Linked DNA regions of Homo sapiens: regions 1, 2 and 4 are each linked to region 3. Evidence: fine-mapped expression QTL. A gene starts in region 3. Each other region holds a variant in brackets. All regions are shown on one strand. Distances are between the middles of the regions.

What was found. PIP is the estimated chance that this variant, and not a neighbour inherited with it, causes the effect.
Region 1: its variant is the best candidate, but not a certain one, in a credible set for the expression of PEPD in anterior cingulate cortex (GTEx, PIP 0.88).
Region 2: its variant is the best candidate, but not a certain one, in a credible set for the expression of PEPD in whole blood (INTERVAL, PIP 0.90).
Region 4: its variant is the best candidate, but not a certain one, in a credible set for the expression of PEPD in whole blood (INTERVAL, PIP 0.69).

What each region holds. Positions count from the first base shown.
Region 1 is chr19:33,390,779-33,394,936 of GRCh38, forward strand. It overlaps PEPD (peptidase D), which reads right to left. Exons shown (of 15, transcript NM_000285.4): 13 at 517-701. Among named protein-coding and RNA genes, the nearest start is that of CEBPG, 19 kb to the left of the region's middle. RefSeq lists an enhancer at 1,733-2,497. The variant TA/T (reference allele first, on the strand shown) is at 2,137.
Region 2 is chr19:33,445,904-33,450,061 of GRCh38, forward strand. All of the region lies in intron 9 of PEPD (peptidase D), which reads right to left. Among named protein-coding and RNA genes, the nearest start is that of PEPD, 74 kb to the right of the region's middle. The variant C/T (reference allele first, on the strand shown) is at 1,991.
Region 3 is chr19:33,520,101-33,524,258 of GRCh38, forward strand. PEPD (peptidase D) reads right to left here and starts at 1,691. Exons shown (of 15, transcript NM_000285.4): 1 at 1,644-1,691. The coding sequence starts at 1,660. It overlaps LOC105372370 (a long non-coding RNA gene), which reads left to right and starts at 1,834. Exons shown (of 3, transcript XR_935918.3): 1 at 1,834-1,914; 2 at 3,321-3,396. RefSeq lists enhancers at 992-1,955, 1,956-2,918 and a silencer at 1,701-1,900.
Region 4 is chr19:33,364,232-33,368,389 of GRCh38, forward strand. No RefSeq gene overlaps it. Among named protein-coding and RNA genes, the nearest start is that of CEBPG, 7.4 kb to the right of the region's middle. The variant G/A (reference allele first, on the strand shown) is at 1,985.

The sequences.
Region 1 (4,158 bases), 130 kb before region 3:
TCCCAGGTGTGCGGCCCAGGGGCCTGGGAGGAGAGGGCGAACCAGCGGCAGAGCAGGGCTGCTCCGGGTTTGTGAGGGGCCAGGGTGAGTCGCCAGTGGGTGGGGCCTCATCAACTCCCCACGCCCCAGGTCTGAATGAAGCCAGAGGCGGCAGGACGTGAGGGGTGCCACGTAGCTCCATCACGAAGACCTGTCCTTAGCACCACTGTCCTGTGGGGCCCCATGCACCGTATCCTGACTGTGTGCCACCTTCTGGACAGGTGACACCTGGGCCCAGCAGGCAGACAGCACCGCCTCTATGTCCAGTTCTGTGGAATGCTCACAGATGCACCCCTGTCTTGGCCAGGGTCCCGATTCCCCCCTCCTCATGGCCTCCGTATACCACAGGGAGCCATGGGGCCCATCCCTGCCATCCCAATACACGCCTGCTGCCTCCTAGAGTCCCACCCTGCCCTGGGGGTCAGGCTCAGCGGCAGCTGATGGGCAGGCCACTCCGCCTGCCATGTCCACACTGACCTCTGGGTAGCCTCCCACGTCGTGCACGTCAATGCCCAGGAAGTGGCCAAGCCCGTGAGGCATAAACACGGCCCCCAGGTGAGCCTGGACCATGGCGTCCACGCTGCCGCTCAGGATGCCCATGTGGGCCAGCTCCTCCAGGTGGATGCGGTCAGCCAGGCGGTGCATGTCAGGCCACCAGACACCTGTGGGCCAGAGGGAGCTGCCGTGAGCCACAGAGCCCAGCAGCCAACACCGCAGGGCCAGGGGCTGGGAGATGTGAAGCCCTCACACTGGCTGTGGTGGGAGGGCCTGAGGTGGGGGGTGAGGGGGCAAGGGTACTACATCGGGGGCCCAGGGGGACAAGGACTAGGGTGGCCCCCCGTGCTGGGCTTTCCCAGCAAAAGCTCTGGCCCTCGGGACCCTTCTTGTCCCTCCATTCTGCCTCTAGGGGCAGGTTCCTGTCACCTGTAGCCAAGGGCCCAGCCTGGGTCTACTCTGTAGCCCATGGTGTGTCCACCCTGAACAGCCTATGCTTCTGGGCCCAGGGAAACCTAGCCAAATCCCTGGGCACCAGGAGAAACATGCACGTCTCCCCAGTAGCAGACACCAGGAGACTCTGTGGGCTCTGGCCCTGAGGCTCAGACCCAAACCCTGGCTCAGAGCTCCGATGGGGTTTTGCTGCTGTGGTGCAGTGGGGAAGCCCGAGGCTGAAAAGAGGGGTCCCTGCACATCCCAGAATGGGGATGAAACACCCCTGGAGCTGCTGCAGGGAGCAAAGGTTTCTGGGGAGAAGGTGCGGCTGGCACGGCCCCACGAGCTGGCTGGCAGGGGTTCGGGGCCCCGCCTGCCAACAGCAGGGGCACCATCTCCAGGGGAGCCAGATGTCCAACTCCCGGCTTCAAATCCAACTCATCTCTGCCGCATGTTTGTGGGGCAAAGGCCACCAAAGAGAGAACTTCCTAAGCACAGAGCTTTGGGGGCCACACAGGCTCTGTGGGGCTCTGGAGCATGGCCGCTAGGAAGGAGGCCCTTAGAGAGCTCTCCACGTAGAGCCTCAGCAGCCCACGGGTGCGCCCGTCCCATCCCCGGACTCTGTGGAATCCCAGCATCAGCCTCTCCTCATGGTAGCTTCCACTGCTGGACTTGGCTTGAGCACCAGATAAGGACTCGAGGCCGGTGAGGCCTCCTGCCCTGGCCCCATGGGGGCTGGGTTTGGGCAGGCCACGTGCTGGCAGAGGCCGGGGCCCCAGGACACTCTGGCCAGGCACGTGGCGGGGGGCCCCTATCAATGTGCAGCTCACTGGCTGGAGAGGGCGCCCAGCAAGTCCCTGCGGCACCTCCTGGAGAGGTCCAGCCCCACCAGGCGGAGTGACCTTGGCTCCCGAGGGCCTCCCTGCCAGGCTTGCCTTGGCGCAGAGCCAGAGCCTGCTCTGCATGGTCCCGATCACTGCTGTGGGAGGGGCCGGGGAGACCCTGAGCTGGCGAGGGCTGGGCTGTGAGAAGCAGGGTTCTGAACCTCTGTGGCTGGCGGAGGGCAGATGATGGGCTCGGCTGGCGAACAGGGATGAGAGTCCACACTGGGACACAGGCCATCACCCCCGACACACTGGGCACAAGTCCTTCATGTTGGGACCCCTT[TA/T]AGTGCCAGAGTTGGCCACTGTGGTGCTGGGGTCTCAGGCGGGCTGGGGGTGCACGGCTTTGGGCAGGCAGTATGGCTGTTGCCCGCCATTCACAGCACAGCGCCCCAGCCACGGCAGCAGCCTAAGGGTGGCAGGGGTGGAGATGCCCAGACCTGCCCCCACCCCCCACACAGAGCAGGGATCCTCCTCAGAGCCCAGCTCCCCATCAGCCCAGCCTCCTAGGGGCTGAGGTGGGGGCGGCCGTCCCGGGGTCTGGGGTCTGGCGTGGGGGAGGCCGTCCCGGGGTCTGGGGTCTGGCGTCGGGGAGGCCGTCCCGGGGTCTGGGGTCTGGGGTCTGGCGTGGGGGAGGGCCCGGGGTCTGGGGTCTGGCGTGGGGGAGAGCCCGGGGTCTGGCGTGGGGGAGAGCCCGGGCAGACCTGGGGCAACTCTGGCTGCAGCTGCCCTGTATCTGGGGCAGCCCTGGGCACACACACCCCTGGCTGGCCCAGCCCGCACCCCTGGCTTTTCTGAGGGGCACAACATCCCGGAAAAGGACACCTGGATAACTGCAGCCCACTTGGCCGCTCCCCCGCCTCCGTGAGCCTCAGCTGCCGCTGGTCAAACAGCCCCACCTCCGTGAGCCTCAGCTGCCGCTGGTCAAACAAACAAACAGCCACAAGGCAGGCCCCGGGGGGTTGCTCTCAGAGCCTCTGTGTCACCTGGGGGCTGGAGGCAGCACCCCGGACAGTGGCATTGGCCACCATTCCTCCATCGCGCATGACCAGCCAGCCCTGGTTCCACACTTGACATTCACTTGTTCCTGGGGGTGTGCGCCAAGCCTGCCCAGCCTCTGCTGCTGCTCTTCTCTGAGAACCCAGCCCGGACAATCCTGGCCCACCTCGCCCTTCCTCTCTGCTGCTGCATCCTCCAGAGGCCAGACCACCCCAAGGCACACAGGCCGTTTTACCTCAGGCCCTTTGCTATGGCCTGTGCCAGGCCTTGACCTGTGATGCCTCATCCAAGGGGTCTCTGCATAAAAGCTGTCCCCTCTCAGAGGAGACCTTCCTGCCTTGCTGTCCCAGGCCTGGTGATTTCTCCTTGCACGGTCCATCCAGCCTGCAGCCGTCCCCTGGACGGATCTGCTCGTTTGCTTCTCATGTCTCACTCCGAGGGTGGGGGTCTCCCGAGGGCACCGCTGGGCCTGGCATAAAGTGAGTGCCCCTCAGGTCTCCCAACAGCCTGCAAAGTTGGCACATGGGGCTGGGAGGCCTCCTGTGAGTGGCTCGTGCCCCAAGCCCAGCTCAACTGCTTCCTCTCGGACGCGCCCTTCTCTGGTCACCAAAGGGGAGCCCCGGGAAGTGCAGCCAGCTTTCCAACCAGGCTAACTTCAGCAGTGGGCTACGTTCTTGGCCCAGCCTCCGCAGAGGGCGGGAATCAGGTATAAATCATGCTCTGCGGTGGCCCTTCCCGGGGGCAGGCCCGGCGCCGCCCAGATGTGCCGGCCCGGGGGTCCCCTTGGCGCCGCTGGTCTTCCTTGCCTGTGCACCCTCGGGGAAGGCCTTGCACACAGCTCTCTTGGCCGGGAGCAGGGAGTTTCTGCCTGTGTGTGGTTAGGGTTGTGACAGTGATTCAACCTCCAGCAACTTGGCCCCAGCCTCTGGCCCGGATGGTGGTTACGACACCCACCGCCTGGGCGGGGGCCCCTGGAGTGTGTGAGGGTCACTGTCCTTGCACTAGGCTGGCAGGGTGGGCACCAACTTGAGGGTTCCCTTGCTGGCCTGGGCCCACTCTCAGGCTCCTCCCACCCTGGCAGCCTGGAGACACCGTCAAGCTCTCTAGTCCAGGCTGGAAGGCACCCCCGGCCCCTAGCCAGCCTATACCCAGATGCCACACTGAGAATCACACAGCAGAAATTGGGCACCAGCTGCCCTGCGTGCCCCAACCCCCAGCAAGCACCAAACCTCATTCTGGCTTTCCCGAAGCACCCCTGCACCTGCCCCACCCCTCCTGGAGTCTGCCTGGCTCCCTCCTCCGCTGCACA
Region 2 (4,158 bases), 74 kb before region 3:
GCCCACCAGGAGCGGCCTGAATTATTCCCCGTGGCAGAAGAGAGAAATCCACGACCTCTAGCCTGCCTGCCCCTGCCCCCACCACCAAGGAAGGGCCGCCTGTCCAAACCACCTGGACCCCGCAGCCTGTTCGGGATTCATTTCTTTCCTCTTCAAAGCATTACAGATTGATTGCCAAGTCTTGCCGTAAATCAAAAGACAGTCACTACTCATTACCTACTTAGAATTCCCCGAGTTCTTCCTGGGAAGCCATTTCTCATCTGTTTGATCTCGGAGCCACCAGCACTATCTCCAGGCACGCCACCCATCACGGCAGCCGCCAGACACTTTTTTCTTCTGGGCTCCTTTCTCAGCACCTAGATGAATTTCTACCTTTCTCCAGCTTTAAGAAGAGCTGCCAAGATAAATGATTCAAAGACTCCAGCTCATGCTGAAAATATATGGACTGCTTAAAGCCTATTATGAATCAGCCAACACTGGGGAGAGACGCACTGGCTGCATCCTCACCGGACGGGTCATCCTGGCTGCTAAGACCTAGACCCACCCGGGCACGTGGACACTCTCTGGAGTCTTTTCACCCGTGGGATCATGACACTTGCCCAGCTTCAACCAGCACCAGGTGCCCATGCCATCCCCAAGCCTCTGCGACCTCTCAGCACAGGGTGGCCGAGAGCCCCACAGTCACATGCTGGCCTAGCAGAAGTGAGGGGTCCCCTGTTTGCACAGTGCATCCAGGAGGAACTTCGGTCCCCAGCCTTGAAGCTGGGACCCCTTTTGCAAAAGCAGCATGCTCTCAGCCACGGCTGCTCACCACCCAGAGGGGAGGGCCCAGCGGGCATCAGGACCCCGCACCGAGGGTGGTGAGGCCTTTCTGCCACCTCTGCTGATAGGGTCCCAGGACCACGGCTTTCCGATGTGCCTCCCACTGTCCAGTCTATGCGCCAGTCTCCACAGCCATCAGCAGGCCCCACGAAGGGCATCTAGCCCCTCTTATCTTGCTGGGATGGACAGTAAGAAAGTAAAACAGCACCAGCAAAGCCCAGCCAGGCTCCGACTCAACCAGCCACCCAGACATTGGCTGTGTGGGGGACTAGACCGCCAGGGCCCTCCAGCAATGAACTGCGGTCACCTTGGGCTGGAGAAGTAGCTATGGTGCACTTCGCCCTAGCTGGGATGCCCAGGAGGGCCACCTGTGCCACCGTGCTGCTTCTGAAGGTTGTGACATGGGAAGAGTTCTATCCCCAGGTGCAGACATGGAGGTCAGCAATCACCACTCACCAATGAGGGGACCCCAAGTGCTGTCACAGGTGCATCCACAAGGCTTGTGGCACACTCATGGAGGGTGGCCCCAGGGGAACACTGCTGCACCAGTGCCGGATGACTGTGGGTGAGGAGGGACACAGACTCATGGACCCTGGGGCTCTGCCTCCACAAAACGGGCTTTTCTAACAAGAGGGTGGAATTCACATGAAGGAAGCTGGCTGGTTCTGTGGGCAGCAGTGACAATGACCCCAGATCCATTTCCCGCTGTCCCCCTGCCAAGTTCCTGCAGGTGCAGGAGCCCGGGATGCATGGCAGTGACAATAGCATTTGTGCAGGCAGGGCAGGGGCGTGCTAGCCCAGGCCAAGTCTGAGGCCTGTCACTGACATGGGATGGAGCCTGTGCCCACCAGCAGCCTGGCTCCTGGGCATCTAGGCCTGTTCAAAACCTGTAACACGGAAGCCAACAGAAATCCACAGCCAGAGGGAGCTGCGAGAGGACGGTGGCTGAGTGGGTGGGGCCAGGCCAGTTTCCCTCCTGCTCAGCCACCCCCAAGATGCTTCCTCACCCTACTCTGGGGCAGCTGAAGAAGGCAGCTGTGGCCAGGCCCATGGCTCCCTCCTGGACAGCTGCCAGAGGAAGCACGAAGACCCACACTGCCCATCCTCCATGCCACAGACAGAGTCCAAACCCTCAGCCTGAACCACAAAGGCAGAGGATGGCCTTGTG[C/T]GGGAGGTTCCTGAGGACGCAAACTCAGCTTCACAGCCCCGGAACACAGAGCCTGCTGTCGGAGTATCTAACAGGGATGGGGAGGAGCCTCAACTTTGGTTTTATCATAAATTACCTCCAGGCTTCAAGAGCAGACATGCCTGCCGGCAGGTATGGAGACAGCCCTTCCTGGATGAAACCATTCATGTCATCCACAGAACTCAGAGCTAGGAGGAGAAAAACTCACGGCCCGGAATAATTACTCCCGCAGGGAGCGTCTTTCGCACCAGCAGGTGATAGGTCTGGATGAGGATTTTCTAAAAACCGGCACCAAACCTCACAGCATAATCACTACTGCCTGCCTGTTCTGGGAGCCAAACCTCAATAACTGCTCCTGCGGGGCTGCTCCTCACTAGATGCGCCCAGGACTTGGAGCCACGCCTTCTCACGGGCAGAACCAGACAGGACACAGCCACCTCCGAGGTGGGCGTCTGGTCCACCTGCCCAGCTAAACACCCTCCCATCTACCACGGGCTCCTTCCGGCATGGAAGAACAGGAAAGGCTCCTTTAGAGTGGGGGACCAGCTCCAGAGGCCTGGAGGCACCCACAGGAGTGAAGCTGGCCAGGTAGTGGCATGCAAAACAGAAAAAAAAGTCTTTTTTTTTCCCCAGAGCTCTCCTATTTTTCTTGAAATACATGACCCTTTCGACTATCTTTTTTTTCTCTTTTGATAGAGATGCTGGTATGAGAAGGCTTTCTCATTTATGAAAGAACCAACAGCATGAAAGCCATGAAAAGAGTCGGCTTCAGTGCTCGGGGAGGTGACGGGGAGCGGTGGGGCCTGTGGCGTGCACCCTGAACGAAAGCTATGTAGCAAGCACCACGCTGCTGCTCTGTGGAAATTCCAGCCCACGGTTACCAGCTACTCTGATTTTCAGGAAAAGCCAAAAAAATCTGATTTTTCAAATTTGGTTGACTTCAATGAACCAAAATAAAGTGTTAAAATACCTATTGCCTGGGCCAAACGGAAACTGCGTGTGTACTGGATGTGGCCCAGAGGCCACCAGTATATAAACTCTGGCCTTTCTCTTGCTAGAAAATTCTTCCTGGAGAATGAGAGGTGGGGACCCAGGGTTTCCCCACACTCCCCAACCAAGACCCTGACGGGACAGAGGCCCCCAGAGGCTGCAGTCCACTCTCACAGGGGCCTCGGGGGAAGGCAGGCAGCAAATGGGGGTGTGGCCAAAGCCAACTCCAGGTAGCTGGCCCACTGTAGAGAAGACATCTTCCATGTCCACCGAGGTGACTCGGTACTGTCTGGACCACCTGGTGCAACTCATAGCCCCCTCCTCAGCTCCTCTGGGGTCGCCCATCTTGCACAGTGAACCTACAAGCAACCTAAACCGTTCCTCCCCCTTTCTTCTGGGCCTGAGCAATTTCAGCAGAGCCCCGCATGGTGGGGTCAATCAGACAGCTCTTGGCCAGCTGTGCAGAAAGAGCCAGAGAGGTCTCCTGGGTGAAAAATGAGAGGAAACCTAAAAAGATCCACCAGCCCATGTTTTCTCAGGATCCATGAGGAGAGCTCACCGGAGAAGCCTGCGCCAAAACAGGAAGGGACCAAGCCACAAAATGCACACAAGAAAACAGCAGCAGAACGAGTGTGCAGGGTCACAGCAGGAGAATGGGAGACAGGCTTGAGTTTCTCACTGGTGCGCAAGTGGACATCATGAGAGGAAGCTAACAGCCCCGGATCACATCCAGGAGACCTAGTACGTGAGGAGGAGGAATTTCAAAGATGACCCTGAGATGCAGAAAGCTTTCACTGCTCAGATGAAAGAAGTCGGTCATAGACTATCGCAGGTGCTCACAGGGACCACCCCAGGCGGTGTCCCAATGTGCATGGCTCCGATCCCAGCGGGTGCCACGTTACCTTCTGAAACTGATAAGGAAGCCACAGAGAAACCAGGGAATGAAATCTGTCCGGGGTGACATGATCAATAATTATATCACAGGTCTCAGGTAGCAGGACCCAAGGGGATGAATGCTTGCCTCTGGGAGTGACCAGGGAGGTAACAGACAGGAAGCAGAGCATGTGATGCCCCCGCTTGGGTGCAGGAGTGGCCACTGCCACTGGCCTGTCCACTGTGTGCAGACCAGCCTTGCTGGTGGCCAAGCTGCCTCTGTCTCC
Region 3 (4,158 bases):
ATTCCAGGATCCAGTCAGTTCCAGACTTGCTCCCGTCCAGACATCAGCTTGGTTCCTTCAGGAGAGCAGCAGGTCTCAGGCCAGCTTGGAATCCTGAACCCAAATGCAACCCCTGGCACTCCCTGTGAGCACCGAGCCAGCCTAACCAGAGAGACAGCACACCCACAGCTGGGCACCAGCCTGCTCAGTCTACCCTTTAAAAGGGTCACAGGCTGGATTCAAGGATCTGACCCTGAGTTCCTTGACACCCATCTGAGACTTTGTCTGCACTGTTCTCTACCTGAAGGGAGTCTCATTGCTGAAGGACTAGCACAAAAGTCACCCAGGAAGTGAAGCCTTCCCACACTTTATCTGAGCTCAGAGTCCATGCCCCTCCTTTGCAAATGGCAAGACCACACGGCAAGCAGATGGATGACAGAGTCCCATGTGTCCATCTGTTCCAGTGGCCTGTGAGTACCTTAAGGGAAGACCCACTGCTATTCCTGGAATATAGCAGGTGCCCACAAAATATTTGATTTGTATGCTCTAAGCTCCCTCAACCTTGGGGGCCAACTTAGAACCCACTTTCTGTTGCCATTTTCCCTGTATCTTAAAAAGAGAGATGCATTCAGTCCACTAGATCCCCCATTCTGACCTCAGTTTCCAACCTGGCATCTGGAATACTGCTCCCTCCTACACCATGCCCCCTCTACCCCACTGTACCACCAGACCCACACCTTCTCCCATTGAACTCACACATAGCTCAGGGGAGCCTAATCTTTAAAAAACAGATCAAGCAGCTTGTAACAAAACCCTTCCAGCCCATCAGGGCAAAGTCTGAAGCCGCCACCTGGAACACCACACCTTCCAACCAGCCCCAGGCATGCACCCCTGTCCCCAGAACACTCTGAACTCTCAACCTTTGTCCCTTACCCTGGGCTCAGATGCTCCCTATCTGGGAGATTCCGCCCAACGCTCTGGTGAACCCATCTGTCCACCCTTCCTCCCACTACGACCACTCAGCTTTCTTTCATTTAGCCCAGTATGGAGCACCTACTGTGTGCAAGGCACCGGGCTACTGAGAAGCAGGTAACATACCTGCCCTTGCACTCTAAATGCAGAGAAGATAAAGAACAAGTACAAACAATGCTCTATATAGTTTATCAGGTGATGATGAGGGCACAAAAAGTGGGATAGATGGTTAGAGAAGGATTCCCTGAGGGGGTGACATTTGGCCCCTGAAAGAAATGGGGAAGTGCCCTGCTGGGAAAAGGGAATTCCAAGTCCGTCTCGAATACCGCCTCCTCCGGGAAGCGCCCGGGTCCCTGGGGTCCTCGCAACGCCGCCCTCCTACCCGGGGGTCTTGGCAGCGAACATGCGTGTCGACCCCAGCCCCCACCGCAGCCGCACACGGTGGGGCCGCCAGACGCGGGCAGGTGGGGCCGGAGCCAGCCAGGAGGGTGGAGAGGAGCTGCGGCCCCCGCGCTGACCCTGACTCGGAGCGTGCAGCTCGCCGACCGGCGCTGGGACTCCGGGCCAACGGGAAGAGGCGCCTACCCGCGGCATTCAGCGACCCCGGCTGACGCTCTCACCCGCGGTCCGGCCGGGACACCCATGCCCCTCTCCACGCCAGCGGGAAAGAGCGAGGGAGGCGCAGCACTCACCCGGTGGCCGCCGCCATGTTCGCCCGGCACCGGCGTCACGTGAAGTGCGGCGTCAGCTGAGCCCCTCCGGGTGCCAATGCATGGGGCGGGGTAAGGGCGGGGCAGGGGGCGGGGCATGGAGTCCTTGACCCACCTCCTCCAGAGCCAAATTCCACGGGACGGGAAGGGGCGGTACCTGGGGAAGGGCGGAGCCCCGATGGGGCGGGGCTCCCGGAGATTGGGGGCCCAAGAGCTCGGCCAGGATAAATGAGCGGGCTGCCGGCTGCAGACAGTAGGTCGGGTTAGCGGGCAGCATCTGCAGCCTTTTCGTGGTGGGAGGGAGGTCCTGAAGCAGAGGACATCTTGATTCTGGTTCAGTCCCCGATCTGGCGTACCAGCCCACCCGGGAGAAGAACACATAGGAATAAAGAAACCACGTGGGAGGAGAGGAGGGAGACTGACCCAGGCTAGGGTCGGGGCAGAGGTGGCGATTTTTGTTTAAGAAGGGAAAGGGCTTGAGCAAAGGCCGTGGGGCAACTGGAGGACTCTAAATGTGCAGCGTCCAGGAGAATGTGCGCGAGAGAGGGGCAGCCTAAGGGAAGCAAGGGCCAGACCCTGCGGGGCCTCCACTGTGGGGCCTATGAGTTAAGTCTGGTAGGATCTTTTCTAGGTTTCCTGGGCTGCAGAATGGAGAAGCTGGAGGAAGGGAAGCCAGGGAGGAGGGCAGGCGAGAAGTGGGCACAGCCGAGAAGGGTTTAGGAGGGAGAGTCTGCCAGAAGGCTTACTCCTCTGCCCCACTGGGCACTGGTACTGGGTGCAGAGTCCTGCAGAGAAGGTGTAGGGACCCTGCAGCAGACGCTGCCCTCCCTACTGCCAACAGAGTCAGGGCATTACAAGCACGGCCCAAATGCGTTGCACATGTGAGCTCATAGAAACCTCACCACAGCCCTATGAGGTCGAGACTATCTTTAAGTCTATTATACAGATGAGGAAACTGAGGCCAGAGAGTGCTCACACAGAGGCTGAGCTCATGAAGCCATACCCTGAGGAGTGACCTCACTGCCCCTGTGAAGGAAGGGGGCCCCACACTGTTGGGGGAGGGCGTCCCTGGCGCCAAGGGTGTACAGATGTGTGTGGTGTACAGATGTGTGTGGACAGGTGGATGGGTGGCCCAGGATAGGCGTGTGGGGCTCCTGACCCCACCCTGCAGCTGTCCCACAGCTGGAAGTGGCTTCTGATCAAAGGTTGTGGGTTGGGGGATGCTTCTTGTTTCTTTATCGAAACAAGGATGTGGGTCACCATGGCCAGGCTGGTGGGAGCCAGGGGCTATGACTGGAGAAGCAGCTTCTGTTTGTCCCCATGAAGCAGGGAGGAGAATAGGCCCCTTAAATAGGAGCAAGGGAGCCAGCCATAAGCAGGGTAGTGAAGGGCACGTGGCACAGTTACCTGGAAGCCCAGTACCATCCCTGCTGTCCTCATCTGTCAGGAGAGAGCTAATGGGGCCACCTCACAGGGCTGCTAGAGGGTTTTACACTCAAACCTGCAGGCACAGCCAGAGACCAAAGCTGCCAGGAGGAATGTGGCCCCTCCAGACAGCCCCTCCCACCTCCCGGTCCCAGATAAGGAAAACGAGAGCTAATGGAAGAGGGGGGGCCTCATCCCTTCTACCCCTTCCCACAACACATGGACAATTTGCAGGGGTCCCTGACCTCCAGGCAAGGTCCAAGAGGAGCTCTCTCCACCCTCTTGCCAGTTTCCAGGAAGAAGAACAGAGGTAAGGATTCACACCCCACTGCCTGGCCTAGGGGCCCCTGAGAACTTCTAACACCCCTAGTTAAGCAGTAGGTCCGCCTTCAGCTTAAGAAACTCAACTCCCTAGTAAGTGGCGCTTTAAAAAATACATAATAACAAAGGGTGAGCAGAATGAGCTTTCCATGCGCCTTCAAGGAAGGAAAACATACCCCCCAGCTCATTCATTGCACCTGCCTCCCACCATTTCTTTTGACATAAAATATGTCAAAATTAAGCCAGCTGCCAGCTCTGAGTGCTTACTAATATGAAAAAGAAGTCAATATCCCAAACACAAAATAATGGAAGGAAGGCACCCACCAACTGAGTGGAGCTCCCTTGTTTGTGGACAGTAATATGGAGGCACTGCCCATGACCCCTGCCCACCCAGGTCCCCTGCCCTCTCCCCTCCCCATCAGGGGCTCCGGCAGGGCTGCCCCTCACCCCTCACCCCTCCCCATCAGAGGCTGTGGCAGGGGCTCCAGAAGCCGCCCAGAATATGGGAGAAGACCATTTAGTTACTTATGCAGGGCAGACCCAGGACGTTGCTGGAGCCAGGAGGCAATTGGGGGAAGATTGATTTTAGAGAGTCGAAGTGGGAGTGTGTAAATCAGCCAAGGCAGCGCGCCAGGCAGCACTCTCATGCGGCATTGCCTCCGAGGTCACAGGCCCTTGTGGCCGAAACAGTCTCCTCTCGTCAAGCCCTGCAGGTGGCTGGTAGATGTCTGCACTCGGTCAGCCTGGTAGC
Region 4 (4,158 bases), 160 kb before region 3:
CTCTTTGTAAGGACTACAAAACAGCACTTGTCTCTCCCCAAATCCCAGTTTCTTCTGCACCTCAGTTCCCCCCCAGAAACCTCTGCAAAGGAAAGACAACAACCCCACCTTCCTCTTCCAGCCAAAACCCCAACATTTATGCAAATAGACTGGCGACTCCACCTGCTAAACCCAAGTCAATATGAATCCCAGTTGAGGCTGACACAGGAACTGATTATTACCGTGGGAATCTAAACGAAAAATAAGATGAAAAAGGAGCAGTCACGGCGGCCTAGGAGTGGACGCAGATTCCTGACGCTAAGCACAGGGATTCTAGGCCACAAGCCCACCTGGCCTGGCTGTGTCTCCTTGGCCCTGTCTCATCTGTTGGGCACCAGCTCCCCCCTGCCCCCTTCTCCAGCCCCTTGGCTTGGTCCTCACAGGACTCCCAGAACTTGGGACAGGGCCTGGCTCAGAGCAGGAATTCAATCAACATCTATTGACTGAGACAGATGAAAGAGAATAGGAGAATGAGTGCCAGGGACAACCATGTCCCTCTGTCTGGGAAGCTTCTCATTTCCTTCTCAGCTCAGTCTTGTGGCTTCCAGGGGTTGACCTGGTGTTTGGACCTTCAGCGGAGGATGGGGCTTCCCCACTAGACCCAAAAATGGTGTCCTGGGCTTCTCCGTCACCCTGCAGTCTCAAAGTGGACCCCTCCACCTCCCCTTCCTTCTTTCTATCCCTCTCTCCTCCTGGAGGAGCTCCTGTAGATCTACTCTCCCTCTCTGCTCCATTTCTCTGCATGATTTGGGTTTGCCTGGCAGAAGCACAGTCACCGCTCGTGGACTGAGGGAGGGAGTGGGGCCTGAGGCTCTTCTGCTGCTTTCTTCTTTACCCATTTGGCTAAAATCTGGCCTGGGTTGTTAATGTTTTAAAACAGTACTGTTTTAGGTTAATGTTAAGACTGCAATGCATCCCAAATACTTAAAAAAATTTCTCAGAACTATTTTATTTTTAATTAATTATTGTAAGAGATAGGGTCTCGGTCTGTTGCCCAGGTTGGAGTGGGATGGCACTATCGCAGCTCACTGTAGCCTCGACCTTCTAGGCTCAAGCCACCCTCCCGCCTCAGTCTTCCAAGTAGCTGGGACCACAGGCACACGCCCATGCTCGGCTAATTTTTAATTTTTTTTTGTAGAGATGGGGCCTCACTATGTTGGCCAGGCTGGTCTCAAACTTGACCTCAAGCAATCCTCCCACCTCAGCCTCCCAAAGTGCTAGGATTACAGGCACTGTGCATGACTCAAAACAACTTAAGATTTATAAAAAATTGAGAAGGAGGTATAGATTTCCCAGTTTCACCTATTACTAACACCTTACATTCATATATTTGTTATAGTTAACGAAGATATATTGATACATTATCATTAATTGAAGTCCATTATTAAATATTGCCCGTACTTCAAATCTGGATTTCCTTAGTTTCTAATATCCTCTTTCTGTTTCAGGATCCCATCTAGGATACCACATCACATTTAGTCATCATGTCTCTTTAGGATCCTCTAGACCAGGTGTCCCTATTTCCTGAGCCACAGACCCATTAGCAACCGGGCTGCCCAGCAGGAGATGAGTGGCAGGTGAGCAAAAGTTACTGCCTGAACTCTGCCTCCTGTCTTATCAGCAGCGGCATTAGACTCGCACAGGAGCACAAACCCTATCGTGAACTGTGCATACAAGGGATCCAGGTTGCACGCTCCTTATAAGACTCTAATGCCTGATGATCTGAGGTAGGACAGTTGCATCCCGAAATGATCTCTCCTCCCCTCCTGCTCCCTATCTGTGGAAAAACTGTCGTCCATGAAATTGGTCCCTCTTGCCAAAAAGATTGGGGACTGCTGCTCTAGACTGTGATACTTTGTCTGACTTTCCTTGTTTTGATGATCTTGACGGTTTTGCGAAGTCTTAGGTAGGTATTTTACAAAATGCTGCTCTATTGGAATTTGGT[G/A]TTTTTCTTAGACTGGGGTTATGAGTTCTCAGGAGGAAGACCAAAGGGTAAAGGGCCATTTTCATCTTATCTTATCAAGGATACTTGCTATCAACACGGTTTATGACTGCTGATGTGGACTTCGATCACCTGCTAGTCTTTGTCAGGTTTCTGCACCATAAAGTTACTCTTTCTTCTCCTCCATATTCTACGCTTCGAAAGGAAGTCACTGTGTAGCCCACAGTTAAGAATCAGGGAGTGTAGCTCTCCAGCCTGAGGGCAGACTATCAATTATTTTGAGTTCTGCATGGGAGATTTGCCTCTTCTCTGTCATTTATACATTTATTCCATCATTTATTAACATCCGTAGGGACTCATGGATATTCATCTCATACTTTGGGTTATAATCCAATACTACGTTATTTGTTTTGCCACTCAAATAGTTCCAGCTTTGGGCACTGGGGGCACTTTCATTTGGCTCCTGTGGCCCTTTGATATAGTCTTATGGATGGAATGTTTATGTCTCCCCAAATTCATATGTTGAAGCCCTGCCCCACATGTGATGATATTTGGAGATGGGGTCTTTGGGAGGTAATCAAGGTTAAGATGAGGTCATGGGGTGGGGCACTCGGGATGGGATTAGTACCCTTATATGAAGACATGCTGGAGAATTCGGTCTCTCCCCACACAGACTCCCCAACAAGTGCACAAAGAAGAGATCATGTGAGCACACGGGGATATTGCAGCTACCTCCATGCCAAGAAAAGAGGCTTCAGAGTAAAATTTACCTCGCCAGCACCTTGATCTTGGACTTCCCAGCCTCCGGACCATGAGAAACAAAGTTGTGTTGTTTACGCCCTCAAGTCTATGGTATTTTGTCATGGCAGCCTCAGCTGACTGAGACACACCTCCCCAATTGCTTCACTTTCTGAGGACTTCCTTACTTTCTGGCACTGCAAGATGTTCCAGGCTCACCTTGTATATTTCCTGCCCCAGCCCTAGAATCAGCCACTTCTGTAAGGAGCCGGCTCCTGTTATTGGAGAATAGTATTGGAAACCAACAACAGGCTCCTAGGTAGCAAATTATTCTTGGATGGACACACTAGAAAACAGTTATTTTGTGCCTCCTATGTGCCAGGCACTATGCTAGCTCCTTTTCATGTTGGTTTACTTAATCCTCATAACAATTCTATGAAATATTTACTGTCAATCCTCCCCAGATGAGGACTGGAGGTGTAGCTGGGTTGAGTGCTAGCCAACACCACTCTGTTCTGTCTCCAAAGCCCATCACACTGCCTTGATAAAGACTGGTGTCACATACCTCACAAACACCATGTTTTTTTTTTTTTTTTTTTTTTGAGACAGATTCTCGCTCTGTCACCCAGGCTGGAGTGCAGTGGCGCTATCTCAGCTCACTGCAACCTCTGCCTCCTGGGTTCACGCCATTCTCCTGCCTCAGCCTCCCAAGTAGCTGGGATTACAGGCGTGTGTCACCATGCCGGGCTAATTTTTGTATTTTTAGTAGAGATGGGGTTTTGCCATGTTGCCCAGGCTGGTCTCGAATTCCTGGCCTCAAGTGATCCCAGATGGCACACATCTCTCCTTATGTGCAAAGATGACAGCCACCTGTGTGTGCACAGATGCATGCAGCTCTCCTCATGTGTGCAGGTGATATGTACCTATTTGCATGTGCTCACATACCTTTGTGTGCAGAGATGACATGTACTTATCCTTAAGACAGATGATGTGTCTCAACTCATGGAATAATGAAATCTGACAAACTGAAAAGTGCTTTAGAATGGACATTCACAGTACTTGCCAACTGCTCAAGCTTAGACCGTGTCAGATTTTTTGCTATCATCCATAGGACTCCCTTATGAGATGTGGGTATGTTCTAAGACAAACACTTAGCATCACAGCTGTTAGGATTTCAAACAGTGCTTCCAGAGATAAAACTGGAGGTTTACATTTTGCCCTCAAGCATGGGGATCATATCACACAAGAAAGAACAGATTAGTCAGCCAGGGTGAGTAAGGCTTCCATCAGAGCGACCACAGTGTGATCTGCCACTTGAAATGCCTATTGATGGGTTTGTCTGCCCAGCACTTCTTTTTCCTCCGAGATCAGCCCCTGCCAACCTCTCCAGAGCAGCCATGTTCATCCATCATGACCTGCTTTTAACACTTGATCATTCC